4 separate regions of the Homo sapiens genome follow, and all the other regions are reported to be linked to region 1. The links are microRNA targets in miRTarBase. Many come from high-throughput screens and were not tested one by one. Region 1 holds a microRNA gene; each other region holds the end of a gene's coding sequence.
The links. Region 1 holds the annotated microRNA hsa-miR-4510 (UGAGGGAGUAGGAUGUAUGGUU, at 2,218-2,239, shown strand). A microRNA usually pairs through its seed, bases 2 to 8, with sites in the 3' UTR of a target mRNA and lowers its output. Matches are read on the target gene's strand: a 7mer-m8 pairs with bases 2 to 8, a 7mer-A1 pairs with bases 2 to 7 and ends in A, and an 8mer does both.

Region 1 (4,332 bases):
CATGTGTTTTTTGTTGTGGCTTTGCTTATGTGGGACAGTCCATGTTACAAGTTTTCTCTATTATTTATATATGAAAGTCTCCTCATGAAAACACCATCATATATAGCAAAGCAAACTATATTAGAATTCCATAATAACATGGCTTTGTATAAATTCTGATACCCTCTTGGTCATAGTTATTCATAGGTCAAATGAAACAATGAACTAATTACACATTGATATACTAGACTGAGGCTGTGTTTCAACCAGGTTGACCTTGTCTGGGGAATACATGCAATCAGGGGCATGTAAGTCCCCTCTGAAATACAACTGAAGATGGTATGATCACCAATGATTGGAAAGGTAGGATCACTGGGAGAAGTCAAGGTTGAGTCTTGGATGTTACAACTAATGTCTATGATTTCCATAGTTCAGAATAAAACCAAGGATAGCGTATCAATCAGGACAACAATAGTCACTCCAGATAGGAGGAATTTTAATAGAGGGAGGTGCTGAGAAGCCAAACAAATGATAATAAGGCAACCCAGACATTACAGTAGCAAAAAGCCACTATCATCCCTATGTTTGAGAGTTAAAGGGAAAAGACTGTTATTGGATTGCCTGGCTCTGGGGCCACAGACAGAAGCCAAAACCATTTCAGGTCTGCCTGTCAGTAGCTTGAACCAGTAAGCAAAGGACACCTATCCAGATTTGCAGCCATAGAAGAGGTTGAAACCTGAGACTATCTGGTTTAAATTAACCTTTCTTGTTACTGGCAGCTACTAATAGATTGCACTTAATCAACTATCGCATCTCTCATAGAGAAGGAGTCATGACCATGTTTTCCTTATTTATTATGCCATCGTGCAGCGGAGAGTGACCCAGAGGTTTATTCTTCTTATGTGACAAGACTGATGAAATCAATCTCACACCATTTTACACTTGTATCTATTGTAATTTTTATACATATTAAAATAAATACCACACACCTGAATTAGGGTAAATGGCTTGCTTATTCGTCCTCTGAGGTGGGCTTTTGTTTTTCCTTACTAGAAAGTCTGAGCGTGTTTCGTTTCTCATATTTGTTTAAATAAAAAAGAAATTTTAATGATACCATGAATCCTCATGATCAGGGAAGAACGATGTGTCAGTTCACCTGATGACCTCACCAGCAAGTAACAGAAAACAAGCAAAATGACTCATACAATGAGGGCTTTGTTATCTTTATTGTCTGACAAGTCCTGTTGTATGTTCCAAGATCACTGACTTCAAGGGCTCAATGAATGGCTCAGGGATCCATTTCATTTCCACATTTTGTTCTGCCATCTTTGGAATGTTCGTGTTTGTCCTTACGTGGCCCCTCACATCCCCAAGTTACTCCAACCTTATATCCTCAACAATAACTTCCAGAGGTGAGAAGATAGACCATCTCTTCCTTATGTTCTTTCATAAAAGTCAGAAAAACTGTACTAGAAATCCACCCCAGACTTCCCCTCACATTTTACTGGACAGAATGACATTACATCATGGACAAGAGAATGGAATTTACATGAGTCATTTCAACCAGAGTTGATATGCACCTTCAGCTGAGAAGGGACTTAGTCTCCTTTGAAGGATATGGCCTACCAAGACTTGAACAAAATCAACTCTTACACAGCACTTACAACAAGGGAGGCACTATTCTAAGAGTTATTAAACATACATAAAGAGATATAGAAATGTGTATTAAATCATTTAATACAAAAATTATATGAGGTGGTTATTATCTATAACTTATCAAGATATTAAGTAACTTAAGGGCCAGGCACAGCGGCTCATGCCTATAATCCCAGTACTTTGGGAGGCAGTGGTGGGAAGATGGGTTGAGGCCAGGAGTTTGAGTCCATCCTGGGCAACATAGTGAAACCCCATATCTACAAAAAAAATTAAAAATTAACCAGGTGTGATTGTGTGGACCTGTAGTTCTAGCTACTCAAGAGGCTGAACCTGGAGGATCCTTCGAACCCAAGAGTTTGAGGGTGCAGTGAGCTATGGACATGCCAAAGCACTTCACCCTTGGTGAGACAGCAAGATAACCTTGTATTAAATAAATAAATTAATTAATTAATTAATTAATTAATTAATTAAGGTCACACTGTTATTCAGTAGTGACAGCAGGGTTGTAACTCAGGTGATCTGGCCCCAGAGTTGTTGCCTTTAAGATGAATACCAGGTTGCCTCTGTGGAATAGTGTGTATGTGAGGGAGTAGGATGTATGGTTGTTAGATAGACAACTACAATCTTTTCTCACAACAGACAGAGCCTGTCATTAAGTAGGCACTCAGAAATGTTCATGGAATAAGCAAAAAAAAAAAAAAAGAAGAAGAATGAATGAATGAATATACCCTTTGATAGCCTCCAATACAGTGTCTTGTATGTAATAGTCATTCAGTGGTTGCTTAGTTGATGGTGTCTCATTGTGTGTCTATTGCAGCACAATTTAAGTAGAGAATTTAGGATATGCTACAAACTGGTCTATCATTTTCCTTAAGATAAATGAGGGGTAATGCTCAGAGAGAGGGCAGTTACCCATGACTGAAGTGGGAGAGACTGACATTCAGGAGTTTGATTTGGGAAACCCTAGAATTCTAGGAAGTGATTGCTGTTTATAAAAATGCAAATTGGTCCTGTTTAAACTTGTCATTATAGAAAAACCTAGCAAGGCTCATATCCTATGCTAAACTCCGCTACAATCTCTATCCAGAAGATGTCTGACCATTTTATATTGTTTTCCAACCCTTTCTTGGTTTGTTCGCTGGAGAGAATCCATCTCATTTACCACAACTCCAAAATCCCCCTGTGTGGAACACAAGACACATCTATGTCCTGCTCACATTGTTTTCTTGAGAGCAGAGAGATGTCAATTGGCTTGGTCCTCTTTTATATGCAATTAGATACAGCTATCATATATTACCTTGTGACAGATATGCATTGTCTCATTCAATATTAAGTAGGGATCCACATGTAGCCATCCACAGTCGTAGACCTGGATATATCTTGTTTCTACTTGGAGAAATTCAATGAATGGCAACATGGATTTACAAATCAATATTAAGAGGTAATTATTCTGCTTACAAATAAATTTGTCAGCTTCCACATCTGTTAGCAGGTCAGAGATTATTTGAGTTCACATTAGAGTGAAATACATAGAAAAGAAACTTAAAGTTTGTATATTATAGAAGATCATTAGGAAATGCCTTCCTTTGACTCTAGAGCCAAAGGACTAATCTAACAATCAATGTCATCAATAACTTTCTCTACAGTATTTAATGTCAATTATTGATTCCCAGAAAAGCAAACCCTGTTCAAAATGTGTTATTTTGATTTATAAGCAATTCATTCACCATATTATTCTCCCTGACCCGCAGTAAGCAAATAGGCATCAAGCCCATGGTTTCCTAGTTATTAAGAATGATAATGTCTCTTACAGATTATCCAATCCAGACCTCTTGTTATATAGACACAGTTAGAAGGCCCAGTTACTATCCCAAGGCTACATAGCTAATAAAATATACAGCCAGAAGGAGAATTTTGGTCTAGAGCTCTTTCCTGTCCTCACAATTAAATAATCAATTTCTTTACATGTCAAAGTCACTACATCTTACAGTTCAGTGCTTACATAACTTTATACCATGCCTTAAATAATATTCCCAAAATACTTATTTGTATTCTTTATATCTGCTTTGATTCCAGAGTACAGAGAGCTCTTGGAGGATGTGATAGATCATATTTTCCAAAGATGGTCACAATATAATTTGCTACTTTACACACTCTTCTTCATTGTGATTTTGTCCTTACACCATTAGAAGTTTATTTTTCCAACCACTTTGAATCTGAGTAGGCCATGTGATTGCTCTATTCAATAATATACAACTGAGGTTCTGCATATGGCCCTTAAGTAGCCCAGCAACTCCTGATCCCTACATTTTGGAATATTTGCTCATAGGACATTTCTTCCAAGAACCCAGTCTCTGCAGTGAGAAGCAGGAACCATACAACAAAGCCGTGATTAGCTGCTCCAGCCTAGCTAAGCTTTCAAAAACTGACAGCTAGTATCAACTACCAGACATGTAAGCGTACCATATTGAACTTCTAGCCCAGCTGAGCTTTTGGGTGACTGCAGGCCTAGATGACAGCTGCCTGTAAGTGCTTGAGAGACCTCAGGTGAAAACCAACCAGTTGGGCACAATCAACCCCCTGGCCTTAAGAAATATTAAATAAGTTTTGTCTTAATTGCCTGAAGTTTTAAGGTGGTTTGTTAGACAGCAGTAGACAACTGGAACACAGCACTAGACAGGAGTTAGCAGTTGTGAC
Region 2 (4,000 bases), not on the chromosome of region 1:
GTGAGACCAGGTTATTTTCTCTAGCTCATCTTACTCCCATATTCTAAAAGAAATCATTGCCAGTGAATGGTAGCCACACTAGTTTTTTTAAAATGTTGAAAAGCCATCTCAGAAAGTTAGGATGAACAAAGCTATTGTTCCACTCTTTCTTTTTCTACTCTGGAAACAAGAAACATTTCCCTCAGCCTGGAAAGACCAACCATTATGAGATGACACAAGGTGAACTGATGGAGAAAATCAATCTTCCTCCATTCCATTTGGGCAAGGCAAGCATTCAGTGGGGGGCTATTCAGAGGGCTCCTCACGATGGAGCAGTGATCTCCTGAATCAGATGGACAAGGCCAGGGACCCCATTGCTCCTATTGGCCCTCAATGCCTCACTCTCTTCAAGGACATCTGCAACCCATGTGGATGGGAACCAGGTGAATGCAGGGAAAAGGGGCTGTATTAGGTTGCTGGGTGGATTTCCCACTGAGATCAGGGCAGCAGCATGTGGCTCCAAGATGCAACATGACCCTGAGAAATAACTCTCAGGAGCCTAATGGAAGGCAATACTACTTAGTGGGAAAAGGCCCTGGAATAAGAGCCAGGAGATGTGGGTTGTAAACCCAATCCTGCCCCAGCCAGCTGTGTGACCTTGGGGAAATTACTTTACCTCTGTGTCTCGGTTTCCTGGCCTGAAGAATGAGAAATTTGGAGTAGAGGAGTAGATGATGTGATCTTAAGGTTCCTTCCAGCTAGAAAACGCTATAATTCAATCTAGGCTAATACTAAAGTCCATAAGGACACAAAGCAGTCATGCTAATGGCTATCCTTTCCAAAACAGTGAAGAGAAAAGGAGCTTTTCTCTCAATTTACCCCTAGTTAATACTACTTATGAAGTTAGTTGTTCAGCCCAGCCCCAATATATACATTTTCCCCTTCTTTGTCCCTATTTCTATTTCTGTAGGGAAGAAAAATCAGGAGGTAGGAACAAGCAAGAGATGGATTGTGTGTGTGTGTGTGTGTGTGTGTGTAAGAAGGAGGGAGAAGTATAGGGAGTGGTGGCAAATGCTTGCTGACTTGATGTTTGTTGACCGTGCAGAAATTAACACAATGGAACTTGAGTGCTAAAATTGGATTGGGTAAAATTGGAAGTGAATGACAGGGGTGGAGGAGCTCAGTTACAGACACACAAAAAAAATTGCCTTGAAAGTGGGCCAATTTAAAATGCAATTAATTATTGGAGACTTAAATTTTGGACTATGCCAAGCCTCATCCCCTGCTCCCTCCAAAATGGCCATAAAGAAACATTTCCTTATACTCGATTAAAAGTAAGATGGAAGATGTACTATTGTTATTGAAGATTGTTGGTTCAAAGGTTATCCTAAAGAAAATATATCCATTTGGTATTTTCTAGTAGTACATATACCGCAATCAAGGAAATACTCAGAGAGCTAGTGTGAGGCCCAAGCATAAGGAAATCTGGATTCTTCCTCTGGTCCTGCTCTTTACCAGCCTCCACTTCCTCAACTTAAAATAAAGGTGATGGACTAAATGAGACCTAAAGTGAGACTATGGGTGGAGTCATTGGGGGTTCTGGCCTGAAGTTTAAAATCAGGCCTCCCACCATTCTTTATGCCCACACCCCCTAATCCAAGTATCACTTTTTCCCAATTAACTACAAAATGTTCTGGGAGGCACTAAGAAAACCCTGAGCTTCTAGAAAGAAATAGGGGCTTAGTAAAATGGGCTTATTAATGGTTTTGAATGGGTCTACAAAAAAAGGAGAGGGGGCAAAAAGAGATCCTCATCATTTGGGGTTCTTCAATTTCACCAGAAACCAGTACTACCATCATCTCACTTTTCCTGAACCGAAAATGTTTCTGGTAGCTACAGACATCTGAAGCTTGTCTAGGGGCATCTGAGCTACCCCACCACCACTGGGTTCCCCCCTACACAGTGCACATCAGCAGTGCCACCCAGTTGCCACCAATCCATTACAGGGGTGTCCTGTAGTATTTCCTAATTTTGAAGCAGCTGCAGATGCACACACACACACACACATGCACCACCCCCTCCCACCACCACCACACACACACACAGCAAGCTCATTCCATTTAGAGTGGAGGAACAACTGCAAGCCATTCAGTAGCCAAACAGCAGCTTGGCTTCGAATGCTGTGCCTTTCAAAATATCTGCACAATTACAAAGAAATAAGGAAATCTTCATATCTGCTAAAAGCAAACACAGAATTGGCATGCATGACCTTCACTTAAATTTAGTTGTCTTTGCCATTATGGGCTATGATTACAGAAAAAAAAAAGCAGTGTTATAAACCTGTATCTCAAAAGACTGAAAACTATTTCAAATGATCAGTCCTTAGTAAAGAGAAATCCTTTCTAATGTTAAAGACAAGTGAAAGATTTCTGTGTCTTCAGTATGAAATATTAGGATTATAGATAAAAAGAGTTGCTTAAAATATGCTGTAACATTTCATTTAAAATATAATTAGAATGTCTGGTCCACATTGAAATTATTAATGCAAGCATAACTGTTAAAAAGCTATCAAAAAACTGATTCTATTGAATTGGCCTCTGCTATTCATCTTGTTTTCTCCTGGAGGTTACTGTTTGGCAGTGACAGCATAATTTCTAAACTACATTATTCTTCTGCTTTTTTTTTTTTTTTTGGTAAATTTTCTTCATGTGTTTTTTAGACAAAAGAAAAATCACCAGTTTATAAAAAAGGAGCCTGAAGAGTTTGCTCCTGAAATACAGACATGAATTTTTATAAAAAGGATATTGATTTCTTGCTATAAAAAGAGACTGAAAGGTGTCAGACCTGAAAACAAATTCTCACAGTGTTTTCAGTGTTGGCTGTTAACAAGGCATTCAATAGAACAGAGATAGATGGATACCATACAGTTCATGTAATCATGTGGTATGTTAGACAGCCTTCTAGAGGAATCAGGTATATGAAGTCCCTTACTCCAAACTATTATCAATTGCTTATTGATTCCAAATTGCCTCAGTGGAGAGATTGACCAGGAATTCACTGTGCTTTATAAACTCTTCGGAAATGTCTGCAGTATTTTCCAATTCTGTCTATTCTCTTAGCTAACCCAGCACCAGGATCCTAAGCATCTGGTGTCACAATTATAAGTTGTTGGTTTATTTCTCCCCATTGACAGCCAGAATTGGTGCTGGACAACAAACCCGGGCCTCAATCAGGAGTGAAGAGTGAGGCTGGGGAGCTGCCTTGCTGTCCTTCCAGGGTCCTCCACCATTCTTGAGATCCAGAGAAAAGGGGCACTTGTGTTTGTCATTCTTGGATCTGCCAATGAGTTTTTTTTTTCCCACACAAACATTTTAAGTGCTGTATATGTAAACAGCCCTCTACAGAAGGAAGACTGTATGGGCAAAATTAGACAGGGCAAATATAACGCAGGCACCTAAGCTTTCCATTGAAAGGTCATGGACTAGCACATTTTGCATCCCTGGAATGCTGCCCCAAAGGATGGTTATCAATCTATCTCTCATAATTGGTAACTGTGGATCAGTGGCCCAGAGGAGAAATCACAGGAAAATAAACCCAACATATTACAATGTGTTTTTCAAAATAACAACAACAACAAAATAAAAACTTGAAAGCACCAATAGCCCTGTTGGACACTTGAGCAGAAGTACCCTACTACAATGATAGGCTTGGATTTGTACTCTGGACTCTGAGCACTCTCCCCTCCTTTACATGGAATCACCAAGCGAGTCCGAGTCATCCAAGGACAGAGGCAGGTACAGGTCCTATAAGAAGAGAAGAGACAAAGTTAATTTTCCTTTTCTTGATATCTTGAGCTCTGGAATGTCTGCTTTAGTTTTTTTTATTAATACTTTAATTTTTACAACATAATAATTATAGATTCACAGGAAGTTGAAAAAATGTACAGGGAGGTACCCTTGTACCAATGTACCCTTCATTCAATTTTCCCTAATGGTACCATCTTGCAGTTTAACATGTGATC
Region 3 (4,000 bases), not on the chromosome of region 1:
TTGTCTTGTTTGCAACTTGACTCTGCCAATCAAAGCTATAAGTAAGTGCCCCGCAGATCTGTTTCCACACTGTAGATCTTGTTCCACTGGTCTCCTGGCTTTTCCCTATTCCAGGAGCACCTTGGTCTCTTCTTTATAGCTTTGTATGACATGGTCATATATTAGTGCCATTCCAAAATACATAATGGTTTTTGTCAATATGAATGGTATCTGTATCTGTGTTTAATATTTAGTTTGTTATGGCAATGGTGACCATATAATTTATCAGCCAAATCAGAATACTTTTGAGGATAAAAGGGGAACAACATTAAAAATTATGTCAGAACAAGTGTTAACTGAGACTGTCCCAAGCCATGACATATAATTACCCTAGTAATTGCTGAGGTCAGTGCACACTGTTGCATTTTATAAATTGATCTGATGTCTTATAGGTTGACTATTATACGTCTATGTCTGCACTCTCCATTCTACTAATTAACCTGTTGATTCTGTTAAATTTTCTATGTAAGTTATCCACAATTAACTGTAATTTTGGTTCTTCTATTCCAGTCCTATTCTATGCTTATTTTTCTTGTCTTATTGCATGGGCCAGAGCTCTAGTACTATATGGAGCTATAATGATAGCAGACATTTTTTTTCTTTCTTCCAGTCTTAAAGTCACATGGTTCGCAATGTTCAGAAGACAAAACCCACATGCTCAGAGAAAACCTGGCTTCTTCCGGCACTGAGGCCAGAGAGAAATGTCCCCATGGAGGAGACACCATGTGATACTTTTTTTCCTTGTATTTCCTCCAGAAAACGCTTTTGCTGTGCCTCAGGATGGGGGAGATGAGATCTGAAGCACCCGGTGCAGCCTCCGAGAAGAACAACTTCTACAGAGATGCCAGGGACAGCCGAGGTAGCGGCGGTGGCACAGGAGGAAATGCTGCCTGTGCCCAAAGCCCCCTTCCGCGGACTTCTAAGATTAGGAGCAAACTCAGGGGTAGGGGCTGGGGGTGCAGGGGAGGGGATTCTGAGCCACCTGTCCGCAAGCAATAGTCCTATTTTGGGCTGGTGGCTTCTGAGAGGTGACTCATTGTGGACTCAGGATGACCAAGACAAAGCAACTCTGGCTGATTCCAGCCAGGAGGATTGAGGCCTGTGAGTTATACCTGTGGTTGAAAACCGAAGCTTCCCTTGCCCCTGCTCCCTCCAGTAGTGGCCCCTTGGGGCTATTTGTGTCAGAATATTGAATGTGCGTGTGTGTGTGCGTGTGTGTGATTTGGGGTGTTCTTTTTGTTTGCTTGGTTGGTTGGTTTTTATTGGGGCTTCCCCCCTCAAGTTCTCTGATGGGCATGAGTCACCCTCCGGCTGGGGGTTCTCATCCGTGTCAATGTCCGAGCCGCAAGCTTATTGCTAAGCACAGGGTACGGCCCCTCTGTGTCTCGGGGAGCACTGGGGATTTGAAAATGCCAGTCAGGGTTGTTTCTTACAGAATTCGTTCCTGTAACAATAGTAATACTAAGGGCTGCATCTCAGGCTGACCACAGGGCAGGTGCCAAGTTAAGTGTTTTCATGCACTCCCTCTCTCACCACCTGGGAGGCAGGTATGATTAACCCCCTGCAGAAAAACTCACAGTGGGGAAGCGGTGCCGGAACCCAAAGTCCAGGCTCCAACTCCCTGGACGTGACATGCTCGCCAGCCGGGGTACACCCTGCACAATGCTGGGAGCATCTCCTTGATGCCTCCACCATCACCGCCTGGAGCGCTGATCCACTCAGCACATTCTGGCTAAGCATCTGCTGTGTGCCAGGCCCCGTGCTGGGCAGTGATGGGAATGAAAGATGAGTTAGATCTCATCTCTGCCCCCGGGGAGCCTCCCATCTGGTGGGAGACACAGACACGTGGATCTTTGCTGGAAAGGGTAACAAGGCCATGGAAACCCAGGCAGGAGCGTTCTAGAAATCCATCCACTTTCAAGTAGGACTTCCATGCCCGTAACATCCACCCACCGAGCTAATCACCCCCACTCCTGCCCCGCTGCCCTGGGACACCTATGAGATGGCATCACCTAAATCATCACAAACATCTCCAAAGGCCATGCTGCCAGTGTAGACACACTCATTCCATGGGTGTTAGTGATACCAAATCTCCCCCAGCTCTTAGCTCGGGAGGCCCTGCTTGATCAATGTGTGTGTCCTCTGACGCAGTTTCCTCATTTCATCAGACCTAGTGTTCTCACACTGACCACCCATCCATTCACCAGACACGACAGTGAGCAAGGCAGGTCCCTGCTCACTGTGCTAGCTTTCTAGCTGGGGCAGGAAGACAGTGAAGAAGGAAGGTGGCGAAGGCAGTGAGTGCTCTGCCGGGAACTCAGTGCCAGGAACTCAGTTCGAGGGACACGTGAGTGAGACCCTTGTGGACCTGGGGTGGTCTGGGAAGGCCGCCTTGAGCAGATGATTGAAGCCCAGATTTGAATGACACACAGGAGCCAGTAATGGGCGTTAAAGATAGGAAAAGAGCATTCCAGGCAGAAGGAACGGCTAGTGCAAAGATCCTGCGGCAGCCACAGGCTTGGTGGTTTCAAGGAAGCACAAGAAAGCCAGGTGGCACAAGAAAGCCAGGTGGCTGGGGACCCAGAGGGAAGGCAGAAGGAGATGAGGGTGATAGTGCCCAGCTCTGGGCTCTGCTGTGAGTCAAGCTGTGCAAACACAATGTCCTGCCTTTGGAAAAGCAGAACAAACTTGCTAGGGTATAAAGCATCCTCCATTCTGCCTGGCTGTCCATCCTCTCAACAGCCCCATGAAGAAGGGGCTCTCCCCATTTTATGGACAAGAAGACAGACTCAGCTGGGTCAAGTGGCTTGCCCAGGATCACACAGGTCAGCTGTGGAAGACCCAGGCCCCTGGCTTCAGTCTTTGGGTCCAGCTGTCTCCTCCAGGCAGTGCTGCCAGTGTCCAGGCATATGGCTTGGCAAAGTGGGAGAACCTCTGCTTGGGGTCTCGATTGGAGAAAGGAATGGCTTCCTCTCCCCTGATGTGAGCCGTCCCAGGGCCATGTTGCCGTAAGGGGGTGCACAGCCTGTCCACTAGCCCAGCTGCGGAAGCCACAGCTGTGTCCCACGTGCAGTGCCTCAGAAGGCAGAGGAAGCCTTGAGGTGGGGGCCCAAGACCCAGATTCTGACATCAGCTCTGCCACTGAGAACAGCGTGACCTCAGGCAAGGTCTGTTACCTCAGTTTCCCCATCGGTAAGAGGAAGGAGTCAGATGGGTATTTAAGGAGTTTGCAACCCTCGTGTCCTGCTGTCCTGGACAATGCTCTGTAGGTGCTTCCTCTGCCAAAAAGGAACTGGTGGCCTTGCCTCCCTCTCCTGGACACCTGGGGTCAAAGGTCACTGCCAAATAGACAGCTAGAACTGGGGTTCACCTAAGCATCCCTTGAGATGTACAACCTTCTAGGAGGACATTCCTCCTGCCTGCCCCCCTCCCCGCAAGAGGTCTTTTCAGGAATAACTGAAAAACCCATGGGGTTTGTGGTCCTGCTGCTCTGCCAAGTCCCTCTTGGGCAGCTGGGCTGAGGACTGGAACATTCTGTGGCAAGCAGGAGGCCTCAGCAGAGATCACCAAGACCCAGCACACCTGGTGCAGACAGCCACGGCATCCTCCTTCCTGCAGGTCACCCCCACGAGCCACTTAACCTCTCAGAGCCTCTGCTTCTCACCTGTCAAGTGTGTGAGGTAGGGTACCAGTTAGTCACGGTACTTGCTGTCTCACAGAGGAGCCGACAGGTGAGAACAGTGTGCATGTGGGTGTGAACACTCAGTGTGGAAAGCAGGTGTGTGTGTATTCAATCCCCCAATGGTGTCAAGGGCTCCTCAAAATGCCATGGGTCCCCAGGTCATTGTGATAAACACTGTCCCCATCCTGCTGTGGTTGTGGCTGGAAGGTCCCTCAAGGAGTAGACTGTCCCTGAGAACAAGATGGATGCAGGGTAGTGACGAGTTCAAGCATAGCTAGA
Region 4 (4,000 bases), not on the chromosome of region 1:
GCAGTTGTCCGAGGGCTGAGCCTGGGCTGCGTCCACCAGCCCTGGCCCCAGCCGCTGGGTCAGAAAGCGCATCACAGCTGTCAACTCCTCTCGGCTCAGGTCTGCAAACAGCTGGCTCTGGCCAGGGTGTGGCCAGGGCTGGGCCCTATGGGATACAGAGGGGCAGTGGGGAGGCTGGCTGGAACCACCTGGGCTGGTCAGCAAAACATAGGCCAGGGCAAAGATGGTAATGAGGGACAGTGCCAGGAACGCCAGGACTATCTTGAGATGCATGGTGGATGCTGAGAGCTGAAATCAGAATTCTAACAGCTGCTCCTTCCAGTTACTGACATCAAGTCGGGGTTTATATTCGCTAGGATGGATAGGAAGGGAGAAAACTCCACCCCATGGGTTGGGCAGGAAATTTCTGACCTTGATTTATGTAATTCTGTTCCAATTTTCTGTCCTGTGGTTTGGCCCAGGGCACTGCTTCCACATGCATAGCCTCTTCCTTGCCCCTGAACTCCCACTGGTAGCAGTCAGTACCAACTACTGATTTCCATCATTTAGACCAGATGAAAGGGAATCTGGGTTAACGATGCTAACCTCCAGTTTCCACCTGGAATGGGTCTCAGGAAGAGTACAAACCTCAGATGCCCAATTAAGTTCTGCAGCCTGCATGCAAGCACTAAGCTGTCCATTTTCCTACCTCCTGGCAGGAACTGCATCCCAACAGCTCCAGGATTCACTGCCATGTTCAGCAGTAAGCACTGAATTCTACTTGTTGCCTAATGCCAAGCCCTTGATTTGTAGTCAGGCCATTTCCAACCAGTGGAGTGGCTGAGGGCCTGGGCTTAGTAATCAGGTTTGTCCACCAATCCCAGTTCCCTCAGCTGTGTAACCTTAGCGGAAATACTTATCCTGAGTCTCAGTGTCCTCATCTGTAACAAATAGATACAACTATCCTATAGATTCCTGAAGATTAAATGTGATCATGCACATTAGGTACTTAACAGCCTGGCACAGGGGAGGCACTCACAAACCGCTAGCTTTTGGTAGTCATCTCTGAAACAGAACAGAGCAGCTGCTCCTCCATTGTTCAAGACCTTAAACTCTTTTTACAGAGACAACGAGGGGATCATTGGAAACCAGAAGGCTACTTGCAAGGTGGAAGATGAGGAAACTTTATTTCAGAGGGAGATAGATTCCTAGGCAGCCCTCCAAGTAATTTGAAAACCAAAACTAGGAGTCTCCTCAAGAAACTGAAGACATTATTCAGGAAGAATTAGTATAAGGTAAAGAAAATGACTGGGTAGGACGCGCCTTGAACCAGTTCATTCCTTACACATGGAACGATAGCAGCCTCTACTGGCAGTTCATGGGTATCACTCGGGAAGGAAGGAACTAGGATCTTCTGAAAGTAGGGAGAGAAGGCAGCTTAGGTCTGGGAAGAGCTAACTTTCCCATAATTCAGACTGAACACAAATGAAGCACCCAACCTTGCTCAGTAGGCAGAAGCCTCAGTCTTTCCACTATACTGGGGAAAAGATTCAGCTCAACTGGCATAAGGACACACAACAGGGTGGCTAGGTGTCCATGGAGGTGGGTGTCCAAGCGTGCACACATATGAGCATGAGTACATCCCTAGCCACCAGAGCATTGCACCAGGGTCTGCGGCTTTAGAAAGAGGTCAAAGTACCTGTATTTTTAATAATTTCTTGACATGGTAAAAGAATTTTACATTACGATCCATGGGTGATAGGGTGAGGAGGAGGGGCAGTGGAACAGTCCAACAAACGAAACGGGAAACTGAGAAACACATGGAGGGAAGGGGGAAGGGTTTTAGCTGGAAGGGATCTGGAGGGTGGGTGGGAGCACTGCCCAACTAAAATGCAATTGGTTTGTTACTGAGTACTATTCGTGGGAAGACAGCATCCTGACTCCCTCTCTACAGAATATTGGGAGTAAAAATGATGCATCCCCGGTGGAAATATTATTGGGGGTTGGAAGACAGAGACAGGAAAAATAAGTCAGAAACAGACACTAAGAGTCACTGGCAGGCTGACTGCAGGTATCAACTCTCCAGCCGTGGTAGAATAAAAGAGCTAGGGGCTGAAGGGGATTAACACAAAAGCTGTTAACAATTAAGTGATATCTCTGGAAGATTCGAGAGACAGGAGGCAACTCTTCTATAGTTTTGACTTGCCCAGCACATTTCCACATACACAAATGTGTATATGCACGTGTGTGCATGCACATACACATACACACCAATGATTGCTTTCCCCGGAAGCCCGACACTATAAATAAAGAGAAATAGTTCCCAAAAGGAAAGCCCAACATGAGCAGCAGCATCTGGACCTCACACTTGCAGAAACCTTCACCCCAACTGAAAACTGGCTGGGAAAAGGCAACCAGGAGTCAAGCTCTTGCAATAATGCCAAAAAGGGCTGAGTCAGAGAGGAACAGGCTTTCCCCAAGCCCTCTGCTTCTCATCTCTCTGTTCTCCACCAACTCACCCTGGGTACCAAGAGGCTACAGTATCAGGAGGGAGGACGGGCCCAGGACGTTTGTCTGGGTAGATGACAACTAAGACAACTGTCACCTCCTGAAAGGTATGTGACAGGGGTTGTGGAGAGGGAGGGTATGTTAGCTAATGGAGTAGGAGTCTGTGTGTGCATGTCTGTATGGGCGTATACATGCATACACATATGTGCATGTGAAAACGCCCATTATAAAAACAACTGAAGGAGCTTCGGAATTGACTGAAGGCCTAAGGTATTTCTTGTCACGATCAAGATTCAAAGTGGGATGTACACAGATGGGAAGCCCTAAGTCATCACCAGGGCAACTGTGGGAGGATCCAATGCCCCACAGAGGAAAGAAACAGTAACCTCATGTGAGGAAGAGAAGTTCGTCCCCCCGCCACCCTAGTTCCTAAAAAACACCTAGCACTTTCCTTCCGGTTCCCTCAGCTTTTAACCAACTAATTATCAAACGGAAGAAAACATAAAGCGCAAGACACAGGAGGGAGAGAGGGGGAGAATGAAAACACAGGTATTTTTGTGCCAACATCCTGCACACACAAACCTGGAGTTCTCCAGAAATTACGACAGGTTGGGTGTGGGGTATTAGGGAAGGAAATAGAAGAGTTCCTGAGGCCTGAAAAAAGAGGTAAACACATCACAGAACTAGATGAGAGTTTCATTAGACTCTAACTAAAAACAGAGAGGTGTGATTACTATTTCCAGCCAGTTTCCCCATCACGATAGTCATGTAACAAACCAAGGCAATGTCGGTCTTGAGCCAGACTCACAGAGTCCCCTGGCCCTGGCCCTGGCCTCAGTACAGAGTCTCTGCATTGCTGCTCCGGGGCCGTTTGATCTTCTCGATATTTTTCAGGATCATGTCATGTAGAGTGACCTGAGAGAAGAGGGATCAGGGGAATCACATATCTGTACAACCCTTACCTCATCAAGAAAATGAGAGACCCCTTCACAAATCCCCAAGCAATCATCTGCATACGGTAAGTCCTTAATGTCATCAATAGGTTCTTAGCAACTGCGACTTGAAGGAAATTAAAGTACAGCAGGTAAGCAAATCAAGTACAGAAGGTCCTCAAATAACCTGGTTTCAAATAACATCATTTTGTTCGATGTCATTTTGTTACAATGTTAATGAAAAAAAAACTTGGTTTTGATATACATCATTTTTAAAGTCGCAGTTTCTAAGAACCTATGGACAACATTAAGTGAAGACTTACTGTATTTTTTTTTTTTTTTTTTTTTGAGACACGGTCTTGCTCTATCGCTCAGGCTGGAGTGCAATGGCGCGATCTCGGCTGACTGCAACCTCCGCCTCCCAGGTTCATGCCATTCTCCTGCCTCAGCCACCTGAGTAGCTGGGACTACAGGCGCCTGCCACCACACCCGGCTAATTTTTTTTATTTTTAGTACAGATGGGGTTTCACCATGTTAGCCAGGATGGTCTCGATCTCCTGACCTCGTGATCCGCCCGCCTC

Region 2: the mRNA of DCX is a reported target of hsa-miR-4510. Seed matches in the 3' UTR shown: 7mer-m8 at 1,023-1,029.
Region 3: miRTarBase lists SHISAL1 as a target of hsa-miR-4510. Seed matches in the 3' UTR shown: 7mer-m8 at 1,186-1,192, 7mer-m8 at 1,560-1,566, 7mer-m8 at 3,345-3,351 and 7mer-A1 at 3,930-3,936.
Region 4: the mRNA of PSME3 is a reported target of hsa-miR-4510. Seed matches in the 3' UTR shown: 7mer-m8 at 3,007-3,013, 7mer-m8 at 2,616-2,622, 7mer-m8 at 2,527-2,533 and 7mer-m8 at 1,173-1,179.

The regions. Positions count from the first base shown.
Region 1 is chr15:35,924,646-35,928,977 of GRCh38, forward strand. MIR4510 (microRNA 4510) reads left to right here and starts at 2,211; the gene lies at 2,211-2,278. All of the region lies in intron 1 of LOC105370766 (a long non-coding RNA gene), which reads left to right.
Region 2 is chrX:111,297,962-111,301,961 of GRCh38, forward strand. DCX (doublecortin) reads right to left here. Exons shown (of 7, transcript NM_001195553.2): 7 at 1-3,782. The coding sequence ends at 3,726. Among named protein-coding and RNA genes, the nearest start is that of CAPN6, 29 kb to the left of the region's middle.
Region 3 is chr22:44,246,481-44,250,480 of GRCh38, reverse strand. SHISAL1 (shisa like 1) reads left to right here. Exons shown (of 5, transcript NM_001099294.2): 5 at 796-4,000. The coding sequence ends at 796. Among named protein-coding and RNA genes, the nearest start is that of SHISAL1, 64 kb to the left of the region's middle.
Region 4 is chr17:42,840,900-42,844,899 of GRCh38, reverse strand. PSME3 (proteasome activator subunit 3) reads right to left here. Exons shown (of 11, transcript NM_005789.4): 11 at 1,140-3,402. The coding sequence ends at 3,322. AOC2 (amine oxidase copper containing 2) reads right to left here and starts at 320. Exons shown (of 4, transcript NM_009590.4): 1 at 1-320. The coding sequence starts at 273.